Linked DNA regions of Homo sapiens: region 1 is linked to region 2. Evidence: fine-mapped expression QTL. A gene starts in region 2. The other region holds a variant in brackets. All regions are shown on one strand. Distances are from middle to middle.

Region 1 (15,734 bases), 42 kb after region 2:
CCTGTGATCATCTTACTGTTCCAGGAAGGACAAAGTCCTTGAAAATGGATAAGAACACATCAAAAAGGAGCCTGCCTGATGCAGCTCTCATTGGCCTAAGTGGGGACACTTGGGAGCAGTGACGTTTGATGAGATGCACACACGTATGGGCTGTGGCAGGGCTGGCTTCAAGGATGTGCAGCCACCATAGCCACATGGGCCCTGTGCCTAGTTTAGTGCTCAGCTGTTGCCATCTTGAAATTGCTTTTTGAAAGAGAGGCGCTGCGTTTTCGTTTTGCACTGGACTCCACAAATCATGCTGCCAGCCCTGGGGAGGGGGAGGTCTTTGCTGAAGAACACCAGGTAGTAAGTGTAGAAGGGAGGATAGAGCTGGAAAGTCACTCAACCAATACTTGATTCAGGCAGAAATCATCACTGGATACCAAAGACATTCAGGAATAGATGGTTGAGACCCAGACGGTTCTTAGTCTCAAAGTGTCACTCCATGGATTCTAAAGAGGAAATTATAATTCAATTAATTATAAAAGGGGGAAATGCACTTTTACCATGAAGAGATCTGGCAGACCCCACTTGCCCAATGATGGGGGACACTTAGTTTATGTGCCTCCTGATGAGGTTCGATGGGAACCATAACCCGTATTTTTGCCAAAAACGTTCAACCCAAATCTAAGAAAACAGACGAATCCAGATGGTGAGAGCTTCTGTAGGATATACCAGTGCATGAAAGACAAGGGTAAGGACTGTTCTGGATTAAAGGAGGCCAGAGAGGCTTCACAGCCAAACGCAATGCCTTATTTGGATTCTGGATTTAAAAAGAAAAAGCCATGAAGGACAAGGGGACGATTAAAGTTTCATTGCAGACTGTATACTGGATAATAGTATTGTTTCAATGTTAAATTTCATGGGTATGATCAGCATATGATCATGATTATGTTGGCTGGTGTCCTTGTTCTTTTTTTTTTTTTTTATACTTTAAGTTTTAGGGTACATGCGCACATTGTGCAGGTTAGTTACATATGTATACATGTGCCATGCTGGTGCGCTGCACCCACTAACTCGTCATCTAGCATTAGGTATATCTCCCAATGCTATCCCTCCCCCCTCCCGCCACCCCACAACCGTCCCCAGAGTGTGATATTCCCCTTCCTGTGTCCGTGTGATCTCATTGTTCAATTCCCACCTATGAGTGAGAATATGCGGTGTTTGGTTTTTTGTTCTTGCGATAGTTTACTGAGAATGATGATTTCCAATTTCATCCATGTCCCTACAAAGGACATGAACTCATCATTTTTTATGGCTGCATAGTATTCCATGGTGTATATGTGCCACATTTTCTTAATCCAGTCTATCATTGTTGGACATTTGGGTTGGTTCCAAGTCTTTGCTATTGTGAATAATGGCGCCATAAACATACGTGTGCATGTGTCTTTATAGCAGCATGATTTATAGTCCTTTGGGTATATACCCAGTAATGGGATGGCTGGGTCAAATGGTATTTCCAGTTCCAGATCCCTGAGGAATCGCCACACTGACTTCCACAATGGTTGAACTAGTTTACAGTCCCACCAACAGTGTAAAAGTGTTCCTATTTCTCCACATCCTCTCCAGCACCTGTTGTTTCCTGACTTTTTAATGATTGCCATTCTAACTGGTGTGAGATGGTATCTCATTGTGGTTTTGATTTGCATTTCTCTGATGGCCAGTGATGATGAGCATTTTTTCATGCGTTTTTTGGCTGCATAAATGTCTTCTTTTGAGAAGTGTCTGTTCATGTCCTTCACCCACTTTTTGATGGGGTTGTTTGTTTTTTTCTTGTAAATTTGTTTGAGTTCATTGTAGATTCTGGATATTAGCCCTTTGTCGGATGAGTAGGTTGCGAAAATTTTCTCCCATTTTGTAGGTTGCCTGTTCACTCTGATGGTAGTTTAATTCCTTTTTTTTTTTTTTTTTTTTTTCTGAGATGGAGTTTCACTCCTGTTGCCCAGGCTGGAGTGCAATGGCGCAATCTCGGCTCACTGCAACCTGCGCCTCCCAGGTTCAAGCGATTCTTCTGTCTCAGCCTCCCGAGTAGCTGGGATTACAGGTGCATGCCACCACGCCTGGCTGATTTTTGTGTTTTTAGTAGAGACGGGTTTTTGCCATGTTGGCCAGGCTGGTCTTGAACTCCTGACCTCAGGAGATCTGCCCGTCTTGGCCTCCCAAAGTGCTGGGATTACAGGCGTGAGCCACCACGCCCGGCTGGTGTCCTTGTTCTTAAGAGATACACAATGAGGTAGGGGTGTATACAACTTACTTTAAATGGTACAGGGAAAAATATGTGTACATACATACATATACATATACACATATACATATACATATATACATACACACACATACACATATACGCATGTTTGTGTATATAGAGGCATACCTCACTTTACTGTGGCGGTCTGGAACTGAACCCAGAATATCTCCGAGGTGTGCCTGTATGTGTGTATATATGTGTGTGTGTGTGTCTATGTGTGTGTGTGTCTATGTGTGTGTTTGTGTGTATGTGTGTGTCTGTGTGTGTATACATGTGTGTATGTGCGTATATATGTGTATGTGTGTGTGTGGTGTGTGTGGTGTGTGTGTGTGTGGTGTGTGTGTATGTGTGTGTGGTGTGTGCGTGTATGTGTGTGTGGTGTGTGTGTGGTGTGTGTGTGTGTGTATCTGTATATATATGTATGAATCTAGGTGAAGGGTATACAAGTGTTCATTATACTAGTTTTTCATCTTTTCCAAAAGTTAATGAACTTTTCAAAAAAGTTTCTAGAGAAATGTGTTTTCATGGCAACGAGTTCTCTTTCCTCCCTTCAGGGAACATTTAGTGCAAATCTAGGTGGCATGTCTGGTGCCAGTTGCAAAAGGCAACGGAGGCCCTCCCTGCTGTGCAGGCACTCAGGTTGCAGCAAGGGACAGCACAAACATCCACAACGCAGGGCAGCATTCAAGGCGGTCGTGCAGCTGTCACAGTTTTCACTGGTTGTGGGCTCACTTCTCAGCCAGCTGCTCAGGGAGGTCCTTGGAGCTGAGCCTGCCTCTGCTTCCTCTGGGCTCACGAGCAGGTCATTCTGAAGCAGGAAGGAGCCCTTCCTTGCTTCCACTTCAGGCCTGCCTGAGGCACTTCCACTGGTCTCCAGTTACTTGCAAGGTCAAGTACAACCTGCAAGGTCAGTATATATTTTATGCGCACTTTATATCTGGCACAGGAGCTTTTCTTTTTCTTTCTTTTTTTTTTGTAGAGACAGAGTCTCTGTCCTGCAGATTGGAGTGCAGTGGCGTGATCTCGGCTCACTGCAACTTCCGCTTCCCAGGTTCAAGTGATTCTCATGCCTCAGCCTCCCGAGTAGCTGGGATTACAGGCATGCACCACCATGCCCAGCTTATTTTTGTAGTTTTAGTAGAGATGGGTTTTCACCATGTTGGCCAGGCTGGTCTCAAACTCCTGGCCTCAAGTGATCCACCTGCCTCAGCCTCCCAAAGTGTTGGGATTACAGGCCTGAGCCACGGGGCCTGGTTCCACATGAGCTTTTGACAGTGCCAGAATGAACCATGTCCTTTACTACTTCAGGCCTTTGCATGAACAATTCCTTGGTCAGGGATCAGACTGCCTGACACACTTTAACCGATCCCTCCAGGCCCAACTCAAAAGTCTCATCGTAGTCCAAGGGGCCTTCCCTAACTCAATCTTCTCCCAGTGACTGGATCTCTGGATTTTACTGTTCTACTTGCTTCCCCTTCCTCCTCCTGGCCACACACACATATGCGTGCACATGCACAAACACACACACACACACACACGCTATTGCGTCCCCAAAGCCTCACGGGTCCTGTAGCTTTTCAGAACTGATGTTCAACAAATGTATGTCAAATGAATGAATGAATGAAAATGCTAGAAAATACGAAGCAGATGCACCGAGGAAATGTTTCTTTGAAGTATCGGATATAATGGAATCTGAGAGCCTCGTGGCAATCAGCTGAGTCTAAGCAGGCATTAGGTTTTATAGGGGTGAAGTCTGACATGAAATTAACATATAAATGTAGATTTCAAACACCTAGAGCCATCTTACAAGATAGGATTTCAGAAATGTGTCCTAGAATGTGAACTGTACCAAAAAACATCCTAGTAAGTTCTAGGAGCTTTATTCTGATTTGTCCCAGAAGTTTTTAATCTTTTCTTCAACTTTGGAGCAAAGTCTGAACATCCAATTGAATGTGGAATAGGTTTCAAGCCATCAAAAACATAAGTTGATTTTTGGGTTGCATTAAAGATCTGGTAATTTGTTTTAAACTTTCATTTTTTAAGGAAAATTAAATAGAGTTGAATTTTTCATTGACAGTGAAATATATAGTAAGCCATGGATTAATACCTTCATAAAAATTTATCTAAACAAAGTGCTGCCTGTCTTATTTATGTTAAAGTCTGTAAAGTCAGCAGTGAAAAAGGGAAAGTACTTTCCTGGAATGTATTTGTATCTGTCACAAGCTGAATCTTGAGGAAATTGGCAGGCATTTGAAGTGGAATAATTCCTTAGCGTTCTGTTTAGTTTGGATTTCTTCAATTCGGGGGTGGCTTAAAACCAGAATCACCAATATTTGCTTTTAACAAGCATCTAACGTTTTCTCTTGCTTTGTGTACACTAAGTGCTCAACAAATGTTGGTTGAATTGAATCATTTTGTTCATCCTTTCTGGGGACTGTCAGGGTTATTCAGTCTATTCTTAAATATGAAAGAATTCTAAAAGAAAAACATCTCCAAAATGACCTCTCCACCAACAGTTTATCTCATTTCCAACTCCTTGTACACAAACCTGCTAGATCTGGCTTTCTGAAATGCTTCTTGGATCCCTCTTCAGTTTGCAAAATTCTATAGAGTGAGCCAGGCTCCCCAGTCGATCTCCTCACCCACTCCTATTTTCCAGGAACCTTCTGTTCTAACCACACAGGTTTCAGAGCCTGCTGGACATATTCTGCGTCTGTGTTTCCTCCCAGGACTTCTCCCACGTGGAAGGCCTTCTTTCTCAATCTCTTCGCCTGTGGAAGTCCTATTACATCTGTCAGGGCATGGCCTTAGTCTCTCACCCTCTAGGAAGATCCTCCAGCTGTCTCAGTCCTCTGGAGTGCCGTGTGCCTGTCTGCAACGTATTTGCAAACAGAAAAAAGAGTGAGAGATCTTCATACACACTGTTAGTACCCTTTACCAATGTGTGAAAACATTCAGCTGCTGTAAAATCTTTTGAAGAAAATAAGATCCAATTAGCGTTGACTTTTATGTCGGGAAAGCTGAGGGTTTCAAAGGAATGCCTTTCAGTCATTCAACAGCTTTTTTTTTTTTTTTTTTTTTTTTTTTTTTTTTTTTTGAGTGCCTGCTCTGTGCCAGGAACTGGAGGAAAAAAAAACAACAAAAAGTCAAAAAGACCTGCCTTCAGGATGCTGAAGCTCTAGTCTGTGGTGTTTCCAAGGGGCCAGGGACCATGGCTCAGAGCTGAGCAGACAGACCTGGAGCCTGTGGACAGGGAAGGTGAAAGCCTGGCTTGTGGCTCCCGGGGCTACAAGTTAGGGAGCTAGGGGGCCAGCTGGGAGGTCAGTGGTGGAAAACCTCTCACACCACGCCAGGGAGTTGACAGTGCTTTTTTTTCTTTTTTTCTTTTCTTTTTTTTTTTTTTTTTTTTTCATTTTTAGGCTGGTTATGAAGAAGAAACTCAAAATAACAGGAGTGGCTTATGGAACTACATGGAGGTAACAGAGGAGGGTACCAACCAAAGGCCCTTGAGCAATCAGGATGTTGGGTAACAGATTTTTGCTTTTAAATGACTCCTGGGTGGAGCTTCCCCAATGCATCGTCATTCCCTGACCCTTGCATCTGACCCTGTGGGTGGGACCCTCCGCCTCCACCATCCACTCAAGGCTCACCCCTGGCTCCTCCACCACCCGGCTCCTGCCCCACACCCCCGATGGCCTTTCCTCCCCTGTAAGGCGACTGAGGTGACTCAGGTCACCCTGCTCCTTCCTCGTCTCATCTCGTCCCTCCTTTCCTGCTTAGACTGTGCCAGATGACCCTTCTTGCAAAGGGGTGGGCGGGAAGGCCCCCCATGCAGCCAGGCAGTGCCTGGATTTGTAACTGGCCATCCCAGCAGCAGTGCCCTGGATGGAAAGCCACGTCCCTGTCACCCTCTCACATCCAGGGCAGTGCCTGGCAGAGCGGGGTCTGATAAACGCCAGGGAACCTCCGATTAAGTGAGGAGGAAGTGACCGTCCACGCTGTACCCACCATGCCAGGCAGTGGGACAAAAGGACCTGACTCAGGTCCAAGAGTCACTGGGCCCCTCCGGCCTAACTGATGGGTGGCCAGGGTGCGGGGTCCCTGGGGATCAAAAGCAGCTGCTAAGGGACCTCGGGGGACCTGCTTGGGGCCAGCCTGAGGCCTGACCGGGCGGAACTGCGTCGGGTGGGCTTGGGCCTACGTCGGCCCAGGCCCCACTGGAGGCCAGGCCCGTCCGGGAGGCGCTGCCTGGCGGGCCACGTCGCCCCGCGTGTTGGGCAGGGCCGCTAGGCCCAGGGGCGGCGCCGCTGGAGGCCGGGCGCGCGGGCCCTACTCGGCAGGGCCTGCTCGGGGCCGGCTTCGGGCCTGCCCGGCCGGGCCTGCCCGCACCCTTCCGCCCGGCCTGGCCGGCGCCCCCTCGCGCCCCGGGCGGGCCCTGCACGTCTCGCGAGCAGCCCGGAGCGGCGGGGGAGGCGGGGCCCGCGGGCTGCCGGGCAGGGCCGGGGCGGTGCCGAGGCCGGGCCGGAGCGGGGCGAAGGGGGCCGAGCGGCGGGCCGGGCCGGGCCGGGCAGGGCCGGGGCGTGGGCCGGCAGGAAGATGGCGAACGTGGGGCTGCAGTTCCAGGCGAGCGCGGGGGACTCGGACCCACAGAGCCGGCCCCTGCTGCTGCTCGGGCAGCTGCACCACCTGCACCGCGTGCCCTGGAGCCACGTCCGCGGGAAGCTGCAGCCCCGGGTCACCGAGGAGGTGAGCGGGCCGCCGGCCGCCATGCGACCCGCGCCGCGGAAGCCCAGGCCCGGGCGGCCCGCGGAGGCCCCGCCTCGCCCGCCGCACCCCCGCCGCCGCCGGGCCGGGCCCAACGAGGCCGGGCCGCCTCCCTGAAGGGCTCAGCCGCCAGGCCAGTCCTCGCCCGCGGAGGCCCAGCCCCAGGCCCCGTCGCCGGTGCGGCGCGGTGGTCCTCCTGTCAGCCCAGCCCTGCGCCCCGCGAGGCCGCGACACCTGCGGACGGCGGGGGGGGAGACGTGGCCGCTCCCAGGGCCGCGCGTCGGCCCCGCCTGGCGACAGGCCCTGGCTTCCAGAAGTTCCCATGGCAGTGTCCCCAGCTGCCTTTCCTTGGGGACACCTGGCCCCTGCCCCCTCTCTGGTGGAAGCCGCCTAAGCCCTATCCGAGTGTTGGAAGCAAAGCAGCCCCCAGCCTGGCCCTTCCAGGCTTGGTGGCTTCATCCCACCAGGGGGATGCGAGCCAGCCTAGAGACAGTTAGCTCTGCAGAGAGGCGACACATCTCCCTAAGGATGGGAAAACGGTGGCCGGGAGCTGCGCAGTGCCCTTCCAGGACTGCAGGAGTGGTTGTGGCCGTGGCTGCAGGGCAGGGCCTCCTGGCACGTGGCCGCTGTTTGAAGCCTCTGTGTCTTGTCTCTCCCTTCTGATCTAGCTCTGGCAGGCTGCCCTGAGCACGCTCAACCCCAACCCCACGGACAGCTGTCCCCTCTACCTGAACTACGCCAC[C/A]GTGGCTGCCCTGCCCTGCAGGGTGAGCCGGCACAACAGCCCCTCGGCCGCCCACTTCATCACGCGGCTGGTGCGGACCTGCCTGCCGCCCGGAGCGCATCGCTGCATTGTGGTGAGTGCTTCGAGAGGAGGCAGCCACGGTGCTCCTAGTCGGGCAGCGGTGAGCTCGGGCCTGGGGAGCTCACAGCCCTGCTCAGACTGCAGCGCACGCCCAGAGGGCTGTGGACGTTATCATCCCTGCTCTGTAGACAGGGAAACAGGTCCAGAGAGACGCGGGGATTTGCCCCAGATCAGTTTTGGTGGCAAATCAGAGACTCAAACCTAGATTTCCTGAGGCCCACTTTGTGTCTGTCCCTCTGTCCCTCATTTTCATGGCTGGTCAGGCTGTTGACATCTGGTGGCCAATGTGTTATTTCTCTTGGAGCATGACCAATGGTGGTCCCATGGTTCCGGGGATGACCTGAGGGATGGGGTGGCGGCTGCTGTGGGACATCTCTGTCTAGATGTCACCTGCCAGGGAGCTGATGTTCCGGAGGCGTTCAAAGAGCAGCTCCCTGCACTCCCTGGTGGCGGCCCTTGCACCCCTCACGCCGTCTCCCTATGTGCCACAGATGGTCTGCGAGCAGCCGGAGGTCTTTGCTTCCGCCTGTGCCCTGGCCCGGGCCTTCCCGCTGTTCACCCACCGCTCAGGTGCCTCTCGGCGCTTGGAGAAGAAGACGGTCACCGTGGAGTTTTTCCTGGTGGGACAAGACAACGGGCCGGTGGAGGTGTCCACATTGCAGGTGGGTGTCTGGAAGGGCAGACACTGCCCCTGGGCCCGGGCAAGATCGGGCAGGTGGGAGGGAGGTCGGGAGAGGGAAAAGCTTGTTGCGGGGGCAGGAGGGGGTTCCTGCCCTTCCCAGGAGCTTTGGTTCCTGGGAAGCGGCAGAGGCTTTTCCAAACCCAGGCCCCCTGCCTCTGCCTCAGCGTGGTCTGTGACTTCAGGATTCTGTTGTATACAGGCAGTGTTTGTTGAGCACGTAATCAGTGCCAGGAACGTCCATGCTGTTTTCCAAATAACCCTGCCCGTTTATGTGAGCTCCGTGTGCACGTGTGTGATGTATGCACGTGTGTGTGTATGTGCGTGCACATGTGTGTTGCTGTGCGTGTATGAGTGTATGTGCATGTGTTGTATGTGTGGGGGGTGTGTGTGTGCATGTGTGATGTGTGTGTGTGTGTGGTATGTGTTGCTGTGTATGTTTGCTGGTGTGTGCATGAGTGGTGTGTGTGGTGTACGTGTGGTATGTGTTGCTGTGTGTGTGTGTTTGCTGGTGTGTGCATGAGTGGTGTGTGTGTGTGGTGTGCATGTGTGGTGTGTGCATGTGTGGTGTGTGTTGTTGTGTGTGAGTACTGGTGTGTGCATGAGCAGCATGTGTTGCTGTGTGTATGAGTGCTGGTGTGTGCATGAGTGGTGTGTGTGTGTGTTGTGTGTGTTGCTGTGTGTGTATGAGTGCTAGTGTGTGCATGAGTGGTGTGTGTGTGGTGTGTGTGCATGTGTGTTGCTGCACCCTTTACAGGGAGCACTTCTACATGTGTTATTTCACTCAATGCTGAGAATGATCCTTTTGAGGCTGCAAGGCCGGAAGTGATTTCCCAGCTCCAGATCCTTGGATGGGCCTGACATCAGGCTCCTGTCCCCACGGCAGCGGTCCCAGCCTCTGCGCCTGCCACCTCCAGTCCCCGAGCCCACAGCGCCACCCAGGTTGTCTTTTCTCATGTGTCAGCGCTCATTCTTCACTTCTGGCTCTGGAAGGCTGTCGCCTTCACCCAGGCAAGCTCTCCCACATCAGCACTTGGGCCACACCTCATTTCTTTCACTGTGTGCTCTCTGAGGCCTGTAACCACTGCCCCTCAACCCAAATTCTTCCATCTTCACCAGCATGAGATAGCTCCCCTTTTTTCCCTTCGTCTCTGAGCTTTTAAAAAAGTCTAACTGGTTTGCCTTGCTTAATCCTCTTTTCCCTCTTAACCCATGGAGACAGAGTTTTTGCCCCCATCCTGACATTGTTTTCTAAGGACTGCTGGATGGGGTGTTGCCGTCCCTCCTTGAAGTGCATCTGCCCCATCCAGAGGTCTCCCTCCCTCCCGCTGCTCCCCAGACTGCTGCCACCTCTCGGCATCCCCTTCATGGCCTCTCCAGCGTTCCGACCTGCTCAGCCCTCTCCGGGTCAGACACCAGCATCTGCCTCTTCTCTCTGTCTTTAGGGATTTTCTTCTGACTTCCAGGCCTGCCATCCAGGTGGGCACGGGTGCCCGCAGAGCCCACCGGGGGCTCAAGCATCACCCTTATTTCCGAGGACAGCAGGGCACCCTGACCTCTGCTGCCCTCAGTCCCTTCCCCTCCTGTGGACTTCCTGCTGTCCCTTAGACTGGCCACGCCCACTCCTGCTCTTGCTCCTCTGCAGGGGTCCTTCCCTCTCCAGCCCAGCATGGTCTCCATCCAGCCTCTGCCCACATTCCCTCCCCAGGGAGGCCTGGCCCTCTTGGCTAGCACCACCCTCCCATTTGTCAGCTAAACCATCACTACTAGACATGTCACATCTTTGTTGATCTCCTGTGCTCCTCACTGGGTTGGGAGTCCCCAGAGGGCAGGGACCTGGTCTTGTGCACAGTGATCCCAGCACCCGACCCCACACATGAAAAAGGCCCAGTAAACATCTGGTGATGGAACCAGTGGGGGCAGTCAGTCCCCATGGCCCCCGACCCCATTGGTCCCAACTAGCTAGTGTGTCCTGTTTCTTGTCTTTGCTCTGCCCAGTGCCGTGCCTTGAGGTGCTCTCCTGGGCTGTGGCAGCAGTCTCCTGGTCACCCTGCCACAGATGGCCTCCTTCCAGCTCCTGCGTCACTCGCCTTCCAAAGGCACATCTGGGTGTGTGCAAGGTGGCATCTTCTGAGTGCTGTCAGCTGTCAGGCCCTGCGCTGAGGCAGGAGTGTGCACACAGCACGTGCTGGTGCACTGAATTCTCACTACAGCCCTGTGAGATACATCCTGTTGTCCCCACGACATTGAGTGGCTCACCGGGGCCACGGCAGCAAGGGGCAGAGCCAGGTGTTAAGCTGCAGCTGCCACCACTCAGCCCTCTTGGGTCCTGAGCACACCATCATCTGACACCCACGTGGCCTGTACTCAGCTTCTCCCTTTTCTTCCCTGCGGGAACCTTCCAGTCCCCACCCAGGACCCTGTCCCCTCTGCATCCTGTGGCCTCATCCTCTTCTGTAGCAGGGACTGGGACTGTGTACTGTGAGTCTCTGCTGAGCTTGACTCCCTTGGACGTCTCTGAATTCTCAGAGTCTTGCACGATGCCTGGCACATGTGGACAGAATGAGTGGTCCTCCTCTCATGGTAAGGGACACCCTTCCCCAGTGCAGCATGGCTGTGTGTTGGTGGAGGGCACCCGCAGCCCTGCCCTCCCTCCCACAGGAGCGCTCTTGCGTCAGAGCCCCGAGCTCGCCGTGGTCTGGGGTCTTCCAGGTGACACCTGGCCTCCTTGGAGGCAAGTCACACAGCATTGACGCACTTCTCAGACAGTCCTTGTCGAGTCCCCACATGCCCTCACAGACAGAGAACCCGCTGACAGGCGGCAGGGACGGCTCAGGCACATTCATATCAGAGCTGTCAAGGTCCAGGTTTCTACCTTTGAGGCTTTGGGGTTTAATTACCTCGGCAGGGCGGGGGAGGTGGCCAGGCTGCAGTATCGACCCGGCGCCTGCTGCCCTGACATTATGAGACTAGAGGCAGGGATGATAAACTTGCTGCTGTCCTGCACCCCCGCAAAACAGCGCTGCTCTTCTCTTAATATTGTCTTTCTGGTGAGCAAGGGAGGCCGTGCAAGCAGCCAGCTGTCTGAAGCTTCTGTGCCTGGGGATGCACAGTGGGGAACAGGGTGGGGAAGGGGTGCCCGCAGATTCAGCTGAGAGAGAGTGAAGCTCCCAGGGCAGATGTGAGACACACATGAGAAGGCAAAGAATGGCCCAAGCCAGGGCTGAAGGACACATTTTTGGGACCCACGTGATGTGTGCTTTGGTGCATGTGCCCCTCTCTGCCCTGCCTTCGAGTGTGGGCTCTGAAGCCCTGCCAGGCCAGCAGGGCCCATGTTTTCAGTTCCTGGGTGGACACGTCAGTTCCATGAGGCGAGACCTCCCTCTGTGTCCTTCCCCTCCGTGCCCAGAACCGTGCTGTGTCAAGTGACAGCACTAGGGCAGCCAGACCCCCATCTGTCTTGCAGGGTTTATGAGGGACTTGCGTGGGACTCATGAGGAAAGCAACGGCCCAGAGGGAAGGCGTCTGGGAGGGCCAGCAGGTTCAAGCACTCAGGATGTAGAGTGCTTCTGCTTGGTGGGGAGGATCTGGAAAAGCTACTGGTAGATACGGCCTATGAGAAGTGCCTCGAAGGATGACTGGGATCTTGGTGGGAGGGAAAGGACTGTGGGATCTGCAGAGGTGAGGCGTGGGAAGCTCAGGGCATACTCAGGGGCTGGCATGAGGGCCACCTACCTTCAGTTGTAGCTGGAATCAGGGGAGAAACAGGACACAGGGCTTGGAAAAGATCCAGATACAGAAGGGCAGGACCCCAGGCTGGGGACTCCTGTATATTTGTGGAGGCGCAGGGTGGTGGCTGTGCTGAAGGTTCTTTCTACAGGTGGCCGGTGGCCCTGGGTTGCTGGGGGTGGGGCAGGCAGCGAGAGCCATGGTCCCCCTCTCCCCTCTCTTTGCTGCCCTGTCAGTAGCCCTGTGGGTGATGTTTGCCTCTGCTGCCTTTTGTTCCTGGGGGATGGACAAGGGGAGAACATCTGCCTCCCACCTGGTCCCCAGTGATGGCCTTTTTCTCCCTAGTGCTTAGCGAATGCCACAGACGGCGTGCGGCTAGCAGCCCGCATCGTGGACACACCCTGCAATGAGATGAACACCGACACCTTCCTCGAGGTTTGTGGCGTCATCAGGCCGGGGGTGGGACCAGGCTGGGGTGGGTGTCATAGACTCCCAGGAGAGCCAGAGGAAACCTGGGGCTGTCCACACCCTGACGTGGCCAGGGAACCTCAGGGCTGCCCTCGGCGGAGCGCTGCTGTCTGCCGGGCTCCAGGAAGCCTCAGGAAAGGGTGTGTGGGGAGGACAGAGCCTCCTCTTCAAGGCCCCTTGGCAGGACCACAGCCAGAGCTACAGGAAATGAGAGTGTGTGGAGGGTGAGCCCCCTCTTCTGGGTTTCATCACACGCGAAGCTGGCTCCCAAGCCCGGCTCCCCGACGCGGCACAGGCAGCGGTTCATCCCTGGCCCCAGCCTCGGCCTCTCCTGTTTCCAGCCATCTTCATGTGTTGTTGTGCTGTTGTTTTTTCCATGAACATGTCCAGGAGATTAACAAAGTTGGAAAGGAGCTGGGGATCATCCCAACCATCATCCGGGATGAGGAACTGAAGACGAGAGGATTTGGAGGTGGGTGGGGGCTGCATCCCTGCAGCTCTTGGCCTCGGGCAGTGGCCAGGGGCACTTGGGTGGCAGGGGGTCGGCGGGCCACATGGCACATTGTCCCAAACTTCATCCTGCTTGTGACCTGAAAGGAATCAGCCTGTGTCCAAGCCCAGTGCCGGACCCTGGGAAGCAGCCGTCCCTGGGGGAGAAGGGGAGGCAATCCAGATTCTGATTTGGATTCTGGAAGCTGCTAGATCCAAGTCCTTCCCTGCCTGCAGCCTCTCCAGCGTCCTCGCGTGCTGCACACCCTTACTCCTGGGACTGGCTCAGCAGGGCCTTTCTGTTCCTTGAATACACAAGTTCCCATCACGGCAGGCAGGGCCTGTGTGCGGATGGCTCTCCCTATCTGGAATACTTTCCCCCAAGATATATTTTTGGTGGAGGCCATCTCAACCAATGCCCCCTCCTCAGAGAGGCCTTCCCCAAGTCCCCAGACCCACCTTTCCCCACTGCCCAGGAACCAGAGGGGCAGATAAGTATGACTCAGCTGCCCCGTGGTGCTTGTAGACTGGCAAGAGGAAGGCGGCTGTCTGTGTTATGTGTGGCTACAAAACAAATCACTCGGAAGATAGCAGCTGAATGCAGCAACACTTATCCCCTCCCCGTGCTGTGGGTTGGGGATCTTCCCCTGGTGCAGCGTCTCTGCCTGCTGTTGTCAGGTTGTTGGCTGGGGCTGCAGTCATCTGAGGGCTTGCCTGGGGCTGGCGATGTGCTTCCGGGCAGGCTCACAACAGGCTGCTGGCAGGTCTCAGGGCCTCACAGGCCATTAGCTGGAGGCAGCAGGTCCTTGCTGTTTGAGCCACCCTCCGAGCAAGGTCTCTGAGCGAGAGATAGGGATAAAGAGCGAGCAAACAAGATGGAAACTCCCATCTTTTTCTGTGACCTAATCCCAGGAGTGATATCTCATCACTTCTACCTTTTTCTTTTGGTTAGAGGTGAGACATCAGGACCTGCTCACATGAGGGGGAGGGACTGCACAAGGACATGAATACCCAGACGTGGGGGCCACAGGGGCCATCCTGGTGGTGTCTACCTAGACAGGAGCCATTTACAAGTGGAGGGAGAGGCCGCTTGTGTCAGGAAAAGCTTCACAGAGGAGGTGGCATTTGCTGTGGATCTTACAGGATGAGTTGGAGTTTGTCAGGCAGCCATGATTAGCTCTCGTCATTGTTGCTATGATTGTTTGACTCAATTATTGCAGGACTTTGAGCCATAGACTCTGCACACGCACAGGCCACAGCTTTCTTGAGAAGATGTGTCATGTAAACCAAAGAGGCAGTGGTGCAGGGACTGTGGGAGCGAGTGTGAAAGGGCGGTGCAGTCCCTGAGTGCTCAAAGGATTCAGGAAGTGGGGACGAGCATGGGCTGGGGCAGCCTTGAGGTGTTATCCAAACATCGTTTCATTCTGCAATCCTGTTCTTTTCTTTCTGGAAAGGATACAATATTTTTTTCCCTTAGTGGGTTTTCTTGCTTAACAAACAACACTTTGCATAGAATTTGTTTGCAATCTCAGACATTGGAGCTAATTTGCATTCCCCAATCCCACACTGGCCAGGGGCAGGAGAAGGGGCAGGGAGCACCAGGCTCAGGCAGGCGGCTCTCCAGGAGAAACACCAGCCGGCCAGAGTTTCCAGGGGCCTCTGGGAGTTCCCCGCTCAGCTCAGCCCGAGCCTAACCCAGTTCTCCCCACGCTTTCCATAGGAATCTATGGGGTTGGCAAAGCCGCCCTGCATCCCCCAGCCCTGGCCGTCCTCAGCCACACCCCAGATGGAGCCACGCAGACCATCGCCTGGGTGGGCAAAGGCATCGTCTATGACACTGGAGGCCTCAGCATCAAAGGGAAGGTGAGGTGCGGGCTGGCTCTCAGGGTGCCCTGGGGGAGGGGAGGGGAAGGTGAGGTGCAGGGCCCGGCTCTCCCGGGTGCCCTGGGGGTGGGGTGGGGTGGGGTGGGGAGGGGAAGGTGAGGTGTGGGCCCGGCTCTCCAGGGTGCCCTGGGGTTGGGGTGGGGTGGGGTGGGGAGGGGAAGGTGAGGTGCCGGCAGGCTCTCCAGGGTGCCCTGGGGGGGGGGGAGGGGCCCAGTTTGGGTCCAGCCAGCCCTCTGAGAGGTGTCATGGGGTGGGGGGCGGCGAGGTTTCTGGGGGTTCTGGGTTGGGGTGGGTTCGGGGAGAGTGCGCAGGGCGGGTTCCCATGTGCTGAGGCGACAGCTTCACGTGGCTCCCTGGGTTTCATGCCCACCCTTCAGAAGGGTCTGGAAACAAAAGCCTGGCCAGGGCCCAAGAGCAGCCCCGGAAATGACGGAAGAAATGGCAAGCAGGGCCAGGGAGGCAGGGCTTGCTGCTTGGGGGCTTTGTCCCGAGAAGAGAAGGGCAAGGGGACGCCTGTGTCTCTGAGTCTGCCCATGGTCCCCACTGAGAAAACGCTCAGAGTGGCCACACAA
Region 2 (15,734 bases):
AAGGAGAGGCATATAGCAGTGTGCAAAGGGCACACAGTGGGTTGAAAACAGACCCAAGGTAGAAATCTGTTGCATGCGAGCACCCAACATCACTTTTCTTGGTTCTAACACGCTGATTTCAGAAGAGGCGAGTTTATAATCCATTGTGTTTGGATGGATCAGACCCTGGCACCCTCCCTGAGTTCAGAAGTGGTCACGTGATCCTGGTCTGACCCATCTGATGATCACTACTTTCTGGCTAAGTTTAGAATTTCAGGATACTAGCTCACATCTGCAATTCCAGCCTTTGGAAGGCCCAAGGCAGGTGGATAGTTTGAGCCCAGGAGTTCGAGACCAGCCTGGGCAACATGGTGAAACCCCATCTCTACAAAAAGTATAAAAAATTATGGCTGAGTGTGGTAGCTTATGCCTGTAATCCCAGCACTTTGGGAGGCCAAGGTGGGTTGATTCTTTAAGCCCAGGAATTCGAGACCAGCCTGGACCCCATCTCTACTAAAAATATAAAACTTAGCAGGGTACAGTGGCACATGTCCATGGTCTCAGCTACTTGGGAGGCTGAAGTGGGAGAATCATTTGAGGTTGCAGTGAGCTATGATAGCGCCACTGTACTCTAGCCAGGGTGACAGAGTGAGACCCTGTCTCAAAAAAAAAAAAAAAAGTATAAAAATTAGCCAGGCATGGTGGTACCTGCCTGTAGTCCCAACTACTTGGGAGGCTAAGGTGGGAGAATCACCTGAGTCTGGGAGGTTGAGGCTTCAGCGAGCTGTGATTGTGTCGCCACATTCTAGCTTGGGAGACAGAGTAAGACCCTGGCTCAAAAAAAAAAAAAAAAAAATGAATTCAGGGATAAGGCTATAACTCATGACAGGCCAATGAGAGTCCATTCTAGGACTTTTGAAACCACTGGAAAAGAGAAATTTCAATCTATTGGGGTTGCTGTCCTGTGAGATAACAGGGCAGAGCTTCCAGAGAGCAATCTGCCACCTCCTGGGGTTCACTGGCTTGAGAATGAAACCAGCACAGGGGAAGAAAGAGCTGAGAGATAGAAACTCCTTGTTGATATGTTTCCTCCTCTGGATCCAGCTACGCATAGATGTTTGGGCCAACACATTTGCTTTGAAGCTTAAGTCCATTTGATTTGGGTTCTGTCCCTTGTGACCAAAGGAGTCTTGAGCCATGCATGGCCACATAGCTAATAAGGGGCTGCTGGTTGCACAGGCAGCATCTGGAGAAGGCTGGAGTCCAGCCCTGCACTTGCACATCACACAAATTACCACGAGCAGGTCAGTGGTCATGGCCATGGGAAAAAAAACTAGAAACGAGTGAGTTGGCTATGTTTCAATACCTGCTAGCGGAAAAACACAATGATTTCCTTTATGTTTTTCAGGGTTTGAGTCATCCAGGTCAGTCCTGGCTTGGCACATTAACTTATTGTTCCTGCCAAGGGAGATGGTTAAGATGGGAGGGTTGATTTATTTGAGTACACATGTGTCCACATCATCCTGGAAAAAAAGTAAAATGCAGATATGCTTTGCTGGCATGTGTTGTGACCCAAGAGGCCTCTTCTTGGCCTCAAAGACCAAAAGCCACGATGTTAGACATTGTTTCAGTCTTGAACTTGACCAAGCATGGGCAGGCACCTGGTATGATGGTGACATAAGGGCCCTGGGAGAGGAGAGTCCTCTCCCCACACGGTGGACAGGGTAGGAGGATTACTTTCTATTGAATAGTCTGAGACAAGAGTGGTGAGAAGGAGCCAGTTATTTGAAGAACCTAGGAAGGAGAGCAAAGCAGGTGCTAAGGAGGTGTGAGGAATGGTGGGAAGGCTAGTGTGGCTGAAAAGGGGTGAGCGAGGGGGACAGAGAACTGCCCTAATCTCTCCACCCATTTTGAGTCTTGACTGTCTGGTATTCTCTAGCACTTAATATAGTTAATCTCACCTTTTGTGCATTAATCCATCCAGTCATCCATTCCGCAAACATTTATCACACCTGACAGTGTAGGGGGTGCTGTCTTCAATGAAGGGTTCACCAAGCAGAAGGGGCAAGACACATCCCCCGCCACTACCCCCACCAGGCAGAGAAAGGCCTGTGAGCCAAGTCCTGGAAAGAAAAAAGCTCACCATTTAGGTGGGGCCTGTTGGGCAGGGCTTTGAATGCCCAGGGGGCACTCCGCCATGTGGAAAGTGTAGAAAACCTAAATGCAGAACTCCAGGAAATACTGATCTATGGGAAAAAAATTGTACTGAAATCCATGATTCTGGAATAAATCAGATCTAGTCTTATACTATATTCTAATACAGCCAAGTGGTGGCAGGGACTGAAGGTTTAAGAGAAAGCGAGAAGAGAAACACTTAAGATGGAGACTACTCCATTAATTAGCTTCATTTTTTTTTTTCTGACAACCAAGAAAAGTCCATCATTAGTTAATATTAGTGATGCCCAGCTTGGTTCAACTTAGAGCACCTGTTTTCTGCTGAGCGTCATTTGAGATCGGCTGGCATGGGCCAGAGGGAGCTGTTTCAGGGCCTCAATCAGGCAGTGACATGATCAGATTTATGCTTTGGAAAGGTCACTGTGGCTGCAGGATGAGGAGGGAAGAGACGGGTGGTTGTTAGCAGGCTGCTGGGAAAATGTACACGATGAGAACCAGAATTTGGGTAGAGACAGTGGAGATGCAAATTCCCTGAAGGCAAGAGTTTTGCTGTTTCATTCTTTCAGCAGTGCCTGGCAAGAGATAGGCACAGCCACTGGTAGATTTTTAGAAATGCCTACTGTATTGAATTGTCTGGTATTAAAAGCTACGGGACTCCAGACAAAACAAAAGTGTTGCCTCTCTCCAGAGTCTCCCTTCTTGGGAGAGGCATCATAGCTGAAGACAGACCCAGATAGGGAGTTTTCTGTTGTTGGAAATACTCAAGGTTTTGAGGAACTATTTGGGGACACAGAACACACAACTCCTGTTACCCGAACCTGGCCCGAATCTGTCTGTCAGATCTGTGCAGACGAGACATATGTTAGGCCTGGGGGCTTTTGCTGCTTGATAAGCAAACAACCATCTGTCTTTCTATAGGTGGGAGAAAGACCAATGTTAAAAGGTGTCTTTGAGATGGTTTAGCCCCCTCTTCCACATGAGTGTGCACTGCAGACACATCTGGATTCCCAAGGTCCAGAACAAGAAGCTCGGAAACGTGCTTAGATTTCCAAGTGTTCAGTTCTCAATACCATGCCATTCTCTTTGGAGTTTATGATGCCTTCCAGGGAGAGCAGAGCCCACGTGAGCTTTCCAACAGTAAGACTACTGCTGTAATAAATCATATTGCCCATTTGTGGCGCACTTACTCTATGCTGAGGTTGTATAAGGGCTTACATGAGCCCTATCTCATTTAAATTGTTTTCACCAAAGGGTGTGTGTCCCACTGCTGACCTGTTGAGCTAACCATCCCCTCTCAGTACTTGAAAACCTGCACCTGCCCAAGCCATGGCCTGGCTTCAATGGGGCTTCCTCCTGCACTGAATGAGATGACAAGAAAACAATGAAACACTTGTCCCCAAAAGTGACTTATTGGATTCGTTGGCAGAATGTTAGAAAGTGGGTATGAAGCCCAAGAAACAGGACACGGAGCCTCACCAAGCCCGAGGAGTATTACCGAATCCTAGCCCAGGCCAAGAATGAGTCACAATGAAAGCTTTTAAAATGTAAAACCATCAACCTAGATTTCAATTCCAAGGAAACACATACTTGGCCATGGGGGAATGCTTTAAAAAAAAAAAAAAATCAAGCTTAAGTCACTTGACAGGAAAATAAAACAGCCAAGGAACATTCAAATATAATGATTTACATCCTTCCCCAACTCCCTTCCAGTGTGGGTCAGGGCGAACATGGACCATGGACGTGACTGGAGCCAGGGGTGCATGCCCTCTCTGGGCTCCCTCTTGGTTAACACTATTTCAGGCACACAATCCCATACCTAAACACAGCCTGCTTAGAGCTGCACCGTGCTGCCTTTGGGGCCTGGTCAGAGCTGCACGGTGCTGCCTTTGGGGCCTGGTCAGAGCTGCACGGTGCTGCCTTTGGGGCCTGGTCAGAGCTGCACGGTGCTGCCTTTGGGGCCTGGTCAGAGCTGCACGGTGCTGCCTTTGGGGCCTGGTCAGAGCTGCACGGTGCTGCCTTTGGGGCCTGGTCAGAGCTGCACGGTGCTGCCTTTGGGGCCTGGTCAGAGCTGCACCGTGCTGCCTTTGGGGCCTGGTCAGAGCTGCACGGTGCTGCCTTTGGGGCCTGGTCAGAGCTGCACGGTGCTGCCTTTGGGCTGCTATGCCAACTTCTTGGATTTTCCTGACCTCCCCGCTGTTAGGCTCTTGGGTTGCTTGGGGTGGCTGTTTTGGGAATACCAGGATTTTTCTTCCATTATTTGTGTGCAAGCAGTGTTCATTTCGCTCAAAGAAATGGAAGCTTGATTGATCTCCTAAATGTAAGAATGAGATTGTCCTGTAATAAATATTTAAGACTGACCAGGAAAGGCGACCACCATCTGCTGAAACACAAGACCAGGAATTACTTTGCTAAGCTTCCTGAACGGAGGGAATGAATGAATAACCATCCTATATAATATTTGCTCAGCACCTGGTAGTTTACAAAGAGTTTTCACTTACCTTATTTGATCTTCACAATAACCCCAGAGAAGTAGACAGGGCGCGGATTACGAGGATTACGAAAAACCCACATTTTTTTCTTTTTTTCTTAACAGATAAGGGCTCTAAAGGCTTAAAGTCACTCGAGGGAGGTCAGAGAGTTTGGGGACTAAATCTCGAGTCTCTCATTAATTCATGCACATATTTAAAAAATATTTATCCGGAGCCTGTTCCAAGCCAGATGAGATGGCAGTGGGTACAAAGATGAATAAAACACTGTCCCTGCGTAGGAAGAAGATCACGTTCTAGCCTGGGGGAGAGCGCCAGGAAAAGTAAACAGGTCCCCCCCTGCTTTGTGAGGTGATGAGTGCTGGGGAGATAGGAAGAGAGTGGGGACCATGTTTCTAATCTGATTCTCCTACCGACGACCAGCTCAGTTGTTATTTACAAATACCTGTCCCCTAAAGGGGGGAGCGGGGTTGGGGGGGCTTGGCCGTGCTGCTGGGGTCAGAGCTCGCAGGGGGGTTCTGCCGCAGTGTGGGGACAAACTCTCCCTTATTGGGCAAATATTTCCCGGGGCGCTACGCTAAGCACACGGGCTCCCCGAATTTCCCTCCCCAGGGCCTCTCTGTCTTTGGATGGCCTGTCAGCAAGTCCCTGCAGCCTCCAGCCCGGCCCGCGCGGCGACCCAGTCCCCTGTCGCCCGAATCTTCCACCGCTGCGAAGCGTCCCCGGGCGAGCGCCCTGCTCTCCGCGCTGCGCGGAAGCCAGAGCCGGTCCTCACAGTGAACTCGCCCAGCCCTGCTCGCGGCTCTCTCGATTTTATGTGGGTTTCGTTGGATGCATTTTGTTATTTGCCTCAATGGATGTTTCACATTAATTTTTAGTTGCACAACGAACGCGCGGGAACATTCTCCGTGAGAGAAAAAGCACGGGTGGGGGGCGGTTACCGGTGCTTCCCCCGGTCGCCTGGGGGTCCCGCACGCGCCCCGCGGGTGCCGCTGTCTGGCTGGGGTCCCTGGGTGAGCCGCGGGCACCGGCTTCGCGTCTCCCCGGGCGCGACTCCGCTTTGCAAGCGCTCAGCACACGGGAAACCCTCGGAAAACACACACGTGTGTAAAGTTTGTTCCACGCAGAAACAAAGGACGCGTGGGGGCCGCTTCTGGGGCCTCGGTCCTTTGTTGGAACCCCGCACCGCAGCCCGGCCCGCAGCCTCGCCCCGCAAGGGGAAGCCGGCCCTGCACAGGCCCGGGGCCCGGAAGGCGCCGCCGCACAGCTCTGCGCCCCCGACCCGCTCCGGCCGCGCGCTGGGCCAGGCCCTTGGCCTCAAGCCTCCCGGGCGGCTCCGGGCCGGACCCGGGTCTCCGTCGCGGGACGCCAGCCTGTTTGTGGGTGCCGTGCTCGGGCCCGGGCGGCCCCTGCCCGACGCGGCCCCACGGAGCCCCTGCACGAACCCCGCCGACCTGGCCCGGGGCGGCAAGTCGAGGTGCTTAGGGCGCCCTGGGCCCGGCCAACCGTGGAAAACCCGGCCCGGGGCACGGGGGGGCGCGGGGGTCGCAGGGCCAGGGCCCAGGCAGGGAACAGAGATTTTTTTCGCGGGGAGGGGGGTGGGAGGTGTCAAAGTTTTCGGGGAACTTTTCCACTTGAGATTCCACGACCCTGCAGTGCCCCCTACAGAAAGCGGCAGCTGGGGAGGGCGGGCGCCCCCGACGACCCCCGACTGCCAGCGGCGGCGCGGCCAGGCTGCCTGGAGTTCTTGTTCCTTTTTTTTTTTTTTTTTTCCTTTTATTTCCTCGTGGTTGTTTGTCGGATACATCTTTTTCCAGAGTGGGAAAAAAAAAAAAAAAAGCGAGCGCCGCCGCCTGCAGTAGAGCGTGCTCGGCCTGCAGAGGCAGTCGTCTCCAACTTTTCCTCTCCCGCTCCAACTCCCCGCGCCCAAAACTTCAGTTCTTGGGGAGCCCAAATTTGCCTGCCGCGCAACTTCCACTCTAATTCAGCGACCAAGGGCCCTGGCAGCGGTTTGCAGCCTGGGGGCCACGCTCCCCAGGCTCAGGCCTGCTCGTTGGCCTGCTCCTAGTGCCTGGACCCAGTTGGGGGAGGCGAAACAGGGCGCCCGAGGAGCACCCCGGGAGAGGGCGGAGCACTCCCGTGCCCCGGGGCAGGAGTGCAGGGAGCTCCCGCGCCCGGAACGTTGCGAGCAAGGCTTGCGAGCGTCGCAGGGGGGCACTCGCGAGGGACGGACAGGAAGAGGGCCAGGGGGGAACGCCAGAACCCGGGACCACAGCACGGAAACGGTCCGGGGCTGAGCTGCAGTCAGATCCGGGGATGGAGGGAGCCGGAGAAGAGGAGTGAGAAGGCCGGGGAGGCAGGCCCTGCTGTCTTCCTGCAGGCCGGCAGCCTGCTGGCAGTGGAGGACCAGGCCGTCCAGGAAAGGAAGGGGTCAGGAGGTCGGGCAGGGCCTCAGCAGGTTCAGACAAGTCCCCAGAAGGGAGCTGCAGGCGCCCTCGAGTCCAGGCCCCAAGCCTGGCTCCGGTTGTCCAAAGAGGGCCTAGGCCAGGCCTCTGGTGCGGAAACTGAGTCACAGCCAGACCTCAGGGCACGGCCTAGACGCTTACGAGCCAAAGTTAGGGGTAGAGAGCAGAGACCTCCGGGGGGTCTCAGGGAGTAGGGGGCTTCAGGGCCTCCCAGTCTAGAGCCGGATTGGCGAGTTAGACGCTTGTAGATCCAAGGTTGGATTGGGGTGGGGTCTCTGGGACGTTGGATCGCTACGCAAGGATTGGGGGGATTCAAGTGCTTAGAGATCGAAGTCTGCCCTGGGTAGGGGGAGTCAGACAATTGGAAAGCCTAGGTAGTTATTTGGGGAGGGGTCTCTACGCCTTGGCGAAGCGCACAGCTGCATCTTTTTGGCTTGAGGCCTGAGGCCTTGTCGAGAAGCTTCCGTGAAAGGGTGGGCCAGCCGGGCCACGAGAAAGAAAGTGAATAAATCAGGAATATAAGTGGGCGGGGGGCCCCTGAGAGGGGGGTCGCAAAGGGTGAGACATGGCCACCAGGCGTTTAACCGACGCTTTCTTGTTGTTGCGGAATAATTCCATCCAAAACCGGCAGCTGTTAGCCGAGCAAGTGAGTAGTCACATCACCTCCAGCCCTCTGCATTCACGTAGCATTGCTGCGGTGAGTCTCCTGGCGGCCTCTCCGACACACGGACCGTGTGCACTGCGGCTCTGCCTGTTTGTCTGTCTCTGTCTGTCTCTCTGTTTAAAAAGAGAAGATAAGAATAATAAGACTAAGAATAATAAGATCTCTTGGCTAGAGTCAGGGGGCATCTGTAGCCCTGGATGAGGAAGAAGCGGTGCTGTGAGGCCGCAGCTCCACCTCTGCCCGGTCTTCTCCTCACTTCCGCAGCACCCCCCCCCCCGCACCCCCCGCCTTGGCGTCACTGCGCTACAGGCCGCCTGTAATTTACATATGTTTTAACGCTAACATTGGGAAGCATTGGGCCTTTCTGAAGCCTTTTTGTTTCGTTTTGTTTGAAGCTCCCCTCCCCCCAGTAATGAGCCTCAGTTTGGTCCTAAGGGCTGGGTCGCCGGATCGTAGACCCAAATCCTTGCAAAATGAACGACTCCCTCCCCTCAAAGAGGAGGGAGTTGTGTTGTTGTTTTGTTTTGTTTTGTTTTTCCGCCCGTTTTCTTTTAACGGCCCCGCAGCCCTCTGTGTGGCCTTGTTCCCTGTGAATAATTGCCTCACTGTTCTTCCTGGGGGCTTGCGTTTGTGAGACTCAAGGTGCTAGCCTCTTCACTTTCCATTTCCCAGACAGGAAATTAAGCTTTCCTCTCCATTCGAACTTTTTAAAAAAAGCCTGAGGAGGTATATGTGAAAATTAACCCCGTAAAATAGCACTTTTTTTTTTTAATTAACCACAACCTTTAGTTAGCCTAGCAGTAGCGTTTTTTAAGGGTGGTCCTGGAAAAATTACTGTTTGGGGTTTGTTTTTAATGGGGGCTACTTTTCCCTTTCTGAGCCTCAGTTTACTGCTCTGTTAAATAAGGGGCGAGTCTGGATGATCTATACCAGACAGTGATCGTTAGCTCTGTAATGTCTTCAATTGAAAAGTGAAGTTATGAAACTGGCTGTAGTTCAGGCTACCTGCTGTAGGCAGACTAGGTTGGAATAGAAGCAGCGTTGGAACAGGCGGGAAATAGCCATCCCAGGACCACATTCTTGGGGGTTATACTTGATATTAGGCAATTTTGGAACATTCATTTCACCTCTTAGGGACTGTATTGCCAGTTTATTTTTTTCTTTATGGCTTTATCTAAATGCTTCAGGAAAATTTTGCCATATGTCATGATTATCATGTCTACAAAGACAGTTTCTCCTTTTTGTAAGTCACAGGTGGAGAATGTCTTTGGCCATATAACTGATAGAAAAGTCATTTTAAGCCGTGTGAGCGGTTTCAGGAATAAAAGCATGTAAACTCAGGTCAAACAGCCTAGAACTAGGGACAGAGTGTGTGTGAGATTTCAGTTAATTAAGAAGTTGAAGGGTTTTTTTTACATTTATAAACGGAAAGGAATTACATTATATTGAAATAAATGTAAAGATGTCTGGTAGCATAGAAACAGGCTAATTCTAGCGCTAATTTTGAAGAAGAAATAATCCAAGAAATCGAGTAGAAATTGGATGAATTCAATTCCTTAATGGAACTTCAGTAATGTTAAATAAGAACTGCATGTTCCTTAAATGACTTGATTTTGTGCTGCCTCAAAAACTACTGAAACTCATATTAAGATTTCTAAGGTATCAGTTTTAATTGAAAAACATATTGTTTATTTTTCAATTTTTAATCATTAAGGTTCAAAATACCCTGAACCTTTGGGTAACATGAGGGTTTTTTTTTTTTTCCCGATTAAGTCAGACAGTTTAAAAACCTAGTATCTGAGACGGGAAGCTTTTTAAAAGTGCATCTCTGAATCAGACCACTTTAGAAAATTATTTTCTAAGTTAGGCAATTTTAAAAAATATTTAAGCTAAGCAGAATAATTAAAAATGGATAGTTAACGTATACAGTTTGGAAAAATAGATATGTCAGGGTATATACAGATACATTTAGCTAACTCACAGTTTTTTGAAAATAGATTTCTAAACCCAACTAAAAATACATTTCTAAGAACGTTAAAAAATGTTTTCTAAATGTCATACCATTGAAAATGTTAATATTTATATTAGTCTGACCATTTAAAATCTTTCTCAGATCATTGAAAGCAGTCATATCATTTAAAATATCCTTATAGTCAATCCATACTATCTCAAAAATAGGTTTTGCAGTCTAACAAACATAGTTTGCCTGAATTCAAATTTAAAAATAAAACACAGATTTATATATTTTAATTGTGTTAAAAAATGGCATGTCATAAATTTCTGAAGTATTTAGGGTTGAAGTGTTACATCTTCACTTTGCTTACAGGTGATTCGTAACAAAATCTATTCTGCACACAGTACGGCGAAATGCTAACAAGACTAAATAGAGGTTATGATTTTTTCAACTTTTCTGGAAGTTGGAAAAGCTTTATAAACATTTTGAAGCAAAAGCCATGTTTAACACAATTTGTAAAATCTATTGAGTAACTCTTAGCAATGCTTTTCACTGCATATCTAGCTCACAAAAAATTTAAAGCCTTGTTTCTGACTTGTAAATTTCAAAGCCATGTAGCAAACCAAACAAAATCGTATCTGTCAAATTTTGAATATGGACTAGGTATTAGGTGACATTAAGGAATTAATTATAATACATTACATTTGCTAATTTTATTAGAGATGCCTACTGAAATGTTTAGTGGTGAAATGTCAAGGCATCTTACCTAAGTCCTTAAACCCCTCCAAAAATAGAGGAAGCAAATAAGGCAAATTGTTACTCATTGTTAAGTCTAGTGATGAGTATGTGTGCGACATTTTACCATTTTGTAGGCTTTTCTGCATGTTTGAAAATTTTTAAATAGAAACTTAAAGTAAGTATATTTGTTATAGTAAAGTAAAACAGTTAAAAAGAGGCAATTTGTAAATACATGTCTAACACTCAGGCAATTTGAAAGGAAGAAATTAAACCTAAGTTTAACTTAATTTAAAAAATAATAACCTGGAATTTTAAGTTTCCAATTAGAAGAAAAAGCTGTAGACTTTGATCTTGATGCATTTGATACCAACTAAAAATACACCTAAAATAACAGACTTTTTAAAAAAAAAATTGTAATCCTGAATTTTGACATCTTATTTCAGGAAAAAGCTGCAGAAATTAATTGCAGAGTAGTGTGTATCATACACCTCAAAGCAAAGCACACCTAAAGCCATGCCATTCAAAAAATTTAAACATGCATTTTTTGCATCCTAGTTTGAGGGAAAAAACTAGAATTTGGTTGTTGTAGTGGGGTTATTGTGTGTCCCTGTGCGTGCATACAGGGTTTTGCAGCATTCAGGCAAATATGTCAAATAAACAGGAATTTAAGGAGGATACGCAGTGACCAGATAAACACAAAGCCTCAAGGGCCAGAAGGAACCTAAAGGTCATTTGGCCTAATGTCCCCATTTGTGATAACCCCTCATGCCTATCTTATTTGGCCATGGTGTATGACAATGATGGAAAATGCCAGCAGCTCCATGATTTTTACCACTAAAAAGTCTTTGCCTGTTAATCCCAACTATTTGTGTCCTGGGGTCCTGCTTTTAGTTCTGTTCCTTCGGGTCTTCCTTCTGTCTGGTAACCCTGCAGCCTTGTTACCCAGAATTCTTTCCAGGCCTAGCATTCCCGGCTCAGAGTGGTTATGCTTTTTTCCTATAAATGATGTTTAGTTTTTCTGTATCCTTTTTAGATTTCAGCATCCAGAACTGAGCAAAATTCTACTTTTTTGTGTTCTTAGTTGTATTAAAGTTAGTAAAACTAATTGTAAAAAAACAGACAGGTTTGACTTTATGCACTCCTAACAAAATACAGTCGTATTTCCCATGCATTTTACTTTGGCCTCAGTTTTGAGTGCCCCATCACGTTCATGCCTCAGGGCAGCATGAAATAAAGGAAAGAGCACTGAGAATTGAATCTGAGAATTGAGGCCTAAGTCCTGTTCTGCTGCAGGCTCAGAGTGTGTCCTTAGGCAAGCCTTTAATCTTTTCGGACATTTTTTGCCTCATTTGTAAACTGAGGGGTTTGGGTTAGGTGATTTCCAGCAGCCCTATCGATTCAACAGTATTTTCTCAAGTTCTGTTTTAATACATTGTTTCTCCTGACTTTAGCTTTAATTTGAAAAGGAGAAATTCATAGTCAACAGTGTTGTAGCTGTCAGTCCAAGGTTACTGACAGAAATCCTTAGAAGTAGCCCCAGTACTGTGCAAAAGTAACTTTCACATTATTATGCCAGCCAAGTGCAGGTTTTAAGGTAGCAACTCATTCAAGCAGCTTGGCTTTAGGAAACTGAAATGGATTTATGAAGCTAAACAATTATTCAAAACAAATTGTAAAGTCATAAAGAAATGAATGAAAGGTAGATATTGAGATGCTCTTCTGATCTGATGAAATTCTGTATGGATTTGTGTGGTTTCCTTCGATCTCCGGGAATGGATCTAATATAGGGGTTGGAGCTACTTTGTTAGTGTTTACTGCCTAATCTATACTCTGCTTTAAAATAATGCATAATCTATAATTGGAAGCTAGCGTTAATTGGTCTTAGATTAGTTTGAAACATAAGCACATTATTTTTAATAAAATGTGTGCTTTAGGAAAAAGGAAATTAAGGATTAACTATGGTTATAAGAAACCTGAGGTCCTTATTCAGGCTTGACTACAATATTAGCTAAGATTTATGGAGAGTTTACTTTGTGCCTGGCTCTGGGCTAAGCCCTTTCCGTGTGTAAGCTCAGCTCATCTTCACAGTGCTCTATCAAATAAGTACTATTGTTTTTCTCAGATACAGATAAGGAAACAGATTTTAGAGGAGGTAGGAAACTGGCCCAGTGTCACCCACCTGATGGCTGGGGGCTGTGATTGGAACTCTGGCAAATCTGGCTTCAGAGCCCCGTGCTCACCTCCTGGGCCACTCTGGTGTTGGCTGCATTTTCAGAACTTGTGCTGCAGATCCTGGAAAATGGAAGGACCTATTGTTTTAAAACAATTTTTTTTCTTGCAATAGGCTAGCATCTTTCTTTATCTCACTTTATGAACCTTACATAGTCAATTTTAACTTGCAGATTGAAGATTCTAAGTTTTAGTACAAGCTGAGTCTGTTGGAAAATTAGTTCTCTGTCTTTAGAATCCAAGTATGAAATCATTATATATTTCTCTTTAGATCTACTTGCTTTTCTGCTTTTAAAGATTCCATGGGAGCAGTGAGGCTTACTTTGAGAATAAGGGTACTTTGTTGGATAAAAGTGAAGCAAACTTTTATTTTGGCAGTAACGGAAATAAAGTAAATATCACTATAGCATAGACCTGTGTTTCCAACTCATTTTGCTCAACTTTTCCAGACTTCCTGAGTAAACACAGATGGGTTTCCACTTATTTTTCAGTTTTATGTAGAAAGTTCTTTAGACTATAAATTCCACATGCTACTTGGAGTTTTCAGTGTTTGCTTGATTGCATGCCATTGGAAGGTCAAAAACCTAGATTTAGACATTATAAAGATTTAGAAGGTGATGATGTGTAGTAACGTGTTTTCATTTGGCTTTATTTTGGTCTTTCTTGATGGTAATTCTAAATGTTTTAATTCAGGTCTTGACTAAATTTCCTGGTAATTTGGTGGCAGACAGAATTTTGAAAGCCTTCTATTTTTAAATAGCAGAATGGTGGGGAGGGTCTTTGAAAAGGTGACCTTAATTTAATATTCCTGATGTGGTGGTAGCTGCCTATCACAAGTAATTCCCTGAATTGTTAATAAAATTAGAGAGGCTGGAGGGTGGGGTGGAAAGAGACCTGAACACCTGGGTCTGTCCCCAGTCTGACCATTAACAAGCTCTGTGGCTTCAAGCAATGCATTTATACATTTTGAAGCTTAGTTTTCTTATTTGTAAGAAAAGACTTATTTCTAGCCCTAGAATCCCATGATTCTGATTTCACCTCTTATCAACTAATAATTGTAGAAATCAGAAGATCAGGGTGTGTGTGCTCGGTTAATAATCCAAGAGCATAGGCACATGTGCAGCAGAGATTTTAACCGAGGTTTGCAATAGTACATCGTTCAAAGATTAAATGCCAGGGAGCCGCTGCAGAATAGGAAGAAGACTGAGATACTCAAGTTAGGGATTTTGTCTTGCATCATGTTTTATTAATAAAAGATTTTAATGTTCTCTTAATGTTAAGCTTTTAAAAAATAAAAACATTTTTTCTTTGTAAAGTAAAAGGTAATTAAATCAGCTTTCCATTTGATTTATTAATATCGTCTAGTACTACTATTATGGCAGGGTGTGTATAGAGTTCTTTTTTGCTCTCATAGAAAATTGTGGAAGGAATGAAGAGGATTTGCAGCTTTTCATAATGTCATCTAATTGAATTTTTACGTGGAGTAAAGTTTGATTACATTTTTATTGCTATCATTGTTTAATAATATTTTGACCCTGATAGAGCAGCTTCATTTGCACTATTTTTAAATAAGAAAGTTATGTTTTATTTTCTAAATTTACTGCTAAACATAAAAAAACACAATTGATTATTGAATTTCACCACTAATTATTTCAGTGATCAATACTGTACAAAAAAAAGACCTAGTTGTTTAGATTATCTGTCATTAGTAAATGTCTGTCCAGAAGATAGAGTTCCATGTTGATCTAAAAAAGAACCTTTACTTTTCAATTGAAACTTAACCCTCTGGTGTCATGCTTCTCCCTTCCCCCTCCCCTTAAAAGAAAAAAATTATTCTTACCTTTTGTTTTGTCTCGTTTGCTTGCTTTTATAAGAGCCTTATGAATAACTGTATGCTTTCTAGCTAATAATAATACATACCAAGAGATGGTAAGAGTTTTTCTTTTATTTTGCCACCTGTGTCTCTCTCCGGGAAAGAGTGGTTTCTCAGCTCTCTTACTACCAGGGATGAAGCCGTGTCTGCGGGATGTAATTTGCAGAGACCTTACATATGTGGTCACTCACATGTTATCTGAATACAGCTACAGACAATTTTTGTGGGTCATTTATTTTTTAATTTTGTTGCATTTGCAGGTCTGATTTACATGTTAAAATATACATTTATTTAACATGATAAAATTACATTTTAGCTCTGCTCTCTTATTTTATTTTCCTGAGGGAAAATAGAATGTGGTATTGTATGTGATATTTGGTGTTTATGAAACAGATTAACAGCATATTTTAGTGAAACCAAAGCAAGTGTGTTTTATCTGTTTCCAGTGTATTTTAATATTTACAGTCATTTTTTGCTTGTTTCCTAGCTCATTTTCAAAACAACCACAGTAAATAAAAATTAAAGCATATATTGATGTAGCTTAATTTAAAAAAAAAAAAGGAGATTTTAAAATGCCTTGCTTAGTGGATCTTTATATTTAGTCAGCTTAAAATCTCAGTGTTTTCTCAACTGACCATGCCTTGTCTGTCTGTCTGTCCCATGCTGCTTTCTTTGTGCTTTCCCCAACTGGATGGGACTGATGGGGACAACATGTCTCTTCAGGAGCTGGACGAGGTATTGTGTTTTGAATATTTTTATATGTTGGGTAATTTGAGTTTATAAAATACCTACTTTTCCTGAAGTCTTTGCTCATATATAAAATGCTAACAGCTTATACATATTTAGCATTTGTTTTGATTACTTTATAATTTTTTTAACAGTTTAATATGTAGAATTTAATCTATTTTCACACCATGTGAACTGATGATTTAAAAAAGGCTTTGGGAAGATCGTTTACTAGTCTTGGGAAAGTGTCTTAACTTTGGAAGCAGTAAAGGTTGAACACTTTCTTCAAGGAAGCCAGAATGTTTTGAGAATTAATGTCTGTAGCTTCCTGATTTCTGAGAAGTGAGTCGTGCACTTCCTCAGGTAGACAGTATAGAAGGCCAGCATGTCTGTGAAGGCCCTAAATGAGAAGGACTGTAGCCACGGCAACTGTGGGAGGGTCTTC

Direction of the effects. Alleles are on the strand shown, and positions count from the first base shown. SD is a standard deviation of normalised expression in the study named.
In carriers of allele C in region 1, the expression in skeletal muscle of the gene that starts at base 6,917 in region 2 tends to be lower than with A alone (small effect, 0.31 SD a copy in GTEx).

Evidence for each region. PIP is the estimated chance that this variant, and not a neighbour inherited with it, causes the effect.
Region 1: its variant is fine-mapped to the expression of STX16-NPEPL1 in skeletal muscle (GTEx, PIP 0.93).

The regions. Positions count from the first base shown.
Region 1 is chr20:58,686,018-58,701,751 of GRCh38, forward strand. NPEPL1 (aminopeptidase like 1) reads left to right here and starts at 6,783. Exons shown (of 12, transcript NM_024663.4): 1 at 6,783-7,033; 2 at 7,720-7,905; 3 at 8,405-8,575; 4 at 12,667-12,756; 5 at 13,180-13,261; 6 at 14,999-15,141. The coding sequence starts at 6,884. STX16-NPEPL1 (STX16-NPEPL1 readthrough (NMD candidate)) reads left to right here. Exons shown (of 23, transcript NR_037945.1): 9 at 5,017-5,210; 10 at 5,388-5,545; 11 at 5,707-5,763; 12 at 7,720-7,905; 13 at 8,405-8,575; 14 at 12,667-12,756; 15 at 13,180-13,261; 16 at 14,999-15,141. RefSeq lists enhancers at 6,216-6,921, 8,362-8,969, 15,484-15,734 and silencers at 6,419-6,908, 6,919-7,078, 7,109-7,188, 7,209-7,298. The variant C/A (reference allele first, on the strand shown) is at 7,794.
Region 2 is chr20:58,644,337-58,660,070 of GRCh38, forward strand. STX16-NPEPL1 (STX16-NPEPL1 readthrough (NMD candidate)) reads left to right here and starts at 6,917. Exons shown (of 23, transcript NR_037945.1): 1 at 6,917-7,802; 2 at 15,287-15,298. STX16 (syntaxin 16) reads left to right here and starts at 6,947. Exons shown (of 9, transcript NM_001001433.3): 1 at 6,947-7,802; 2 at 15,287-15,298. The coding sequence starts at 7,671. It overlaps LOC107985410 (a long non-coding RNA gene), which reads right to left and starts at 5,299. Exons shown (of 3, transcript XR_005647058.2): 1 at 4,653-5,299. RefSeq lists silencers at 3,157-3,451, 5,850-6,209 and enhancers at 4,139-4,676, 7,706-7,975, 7,813-8,316.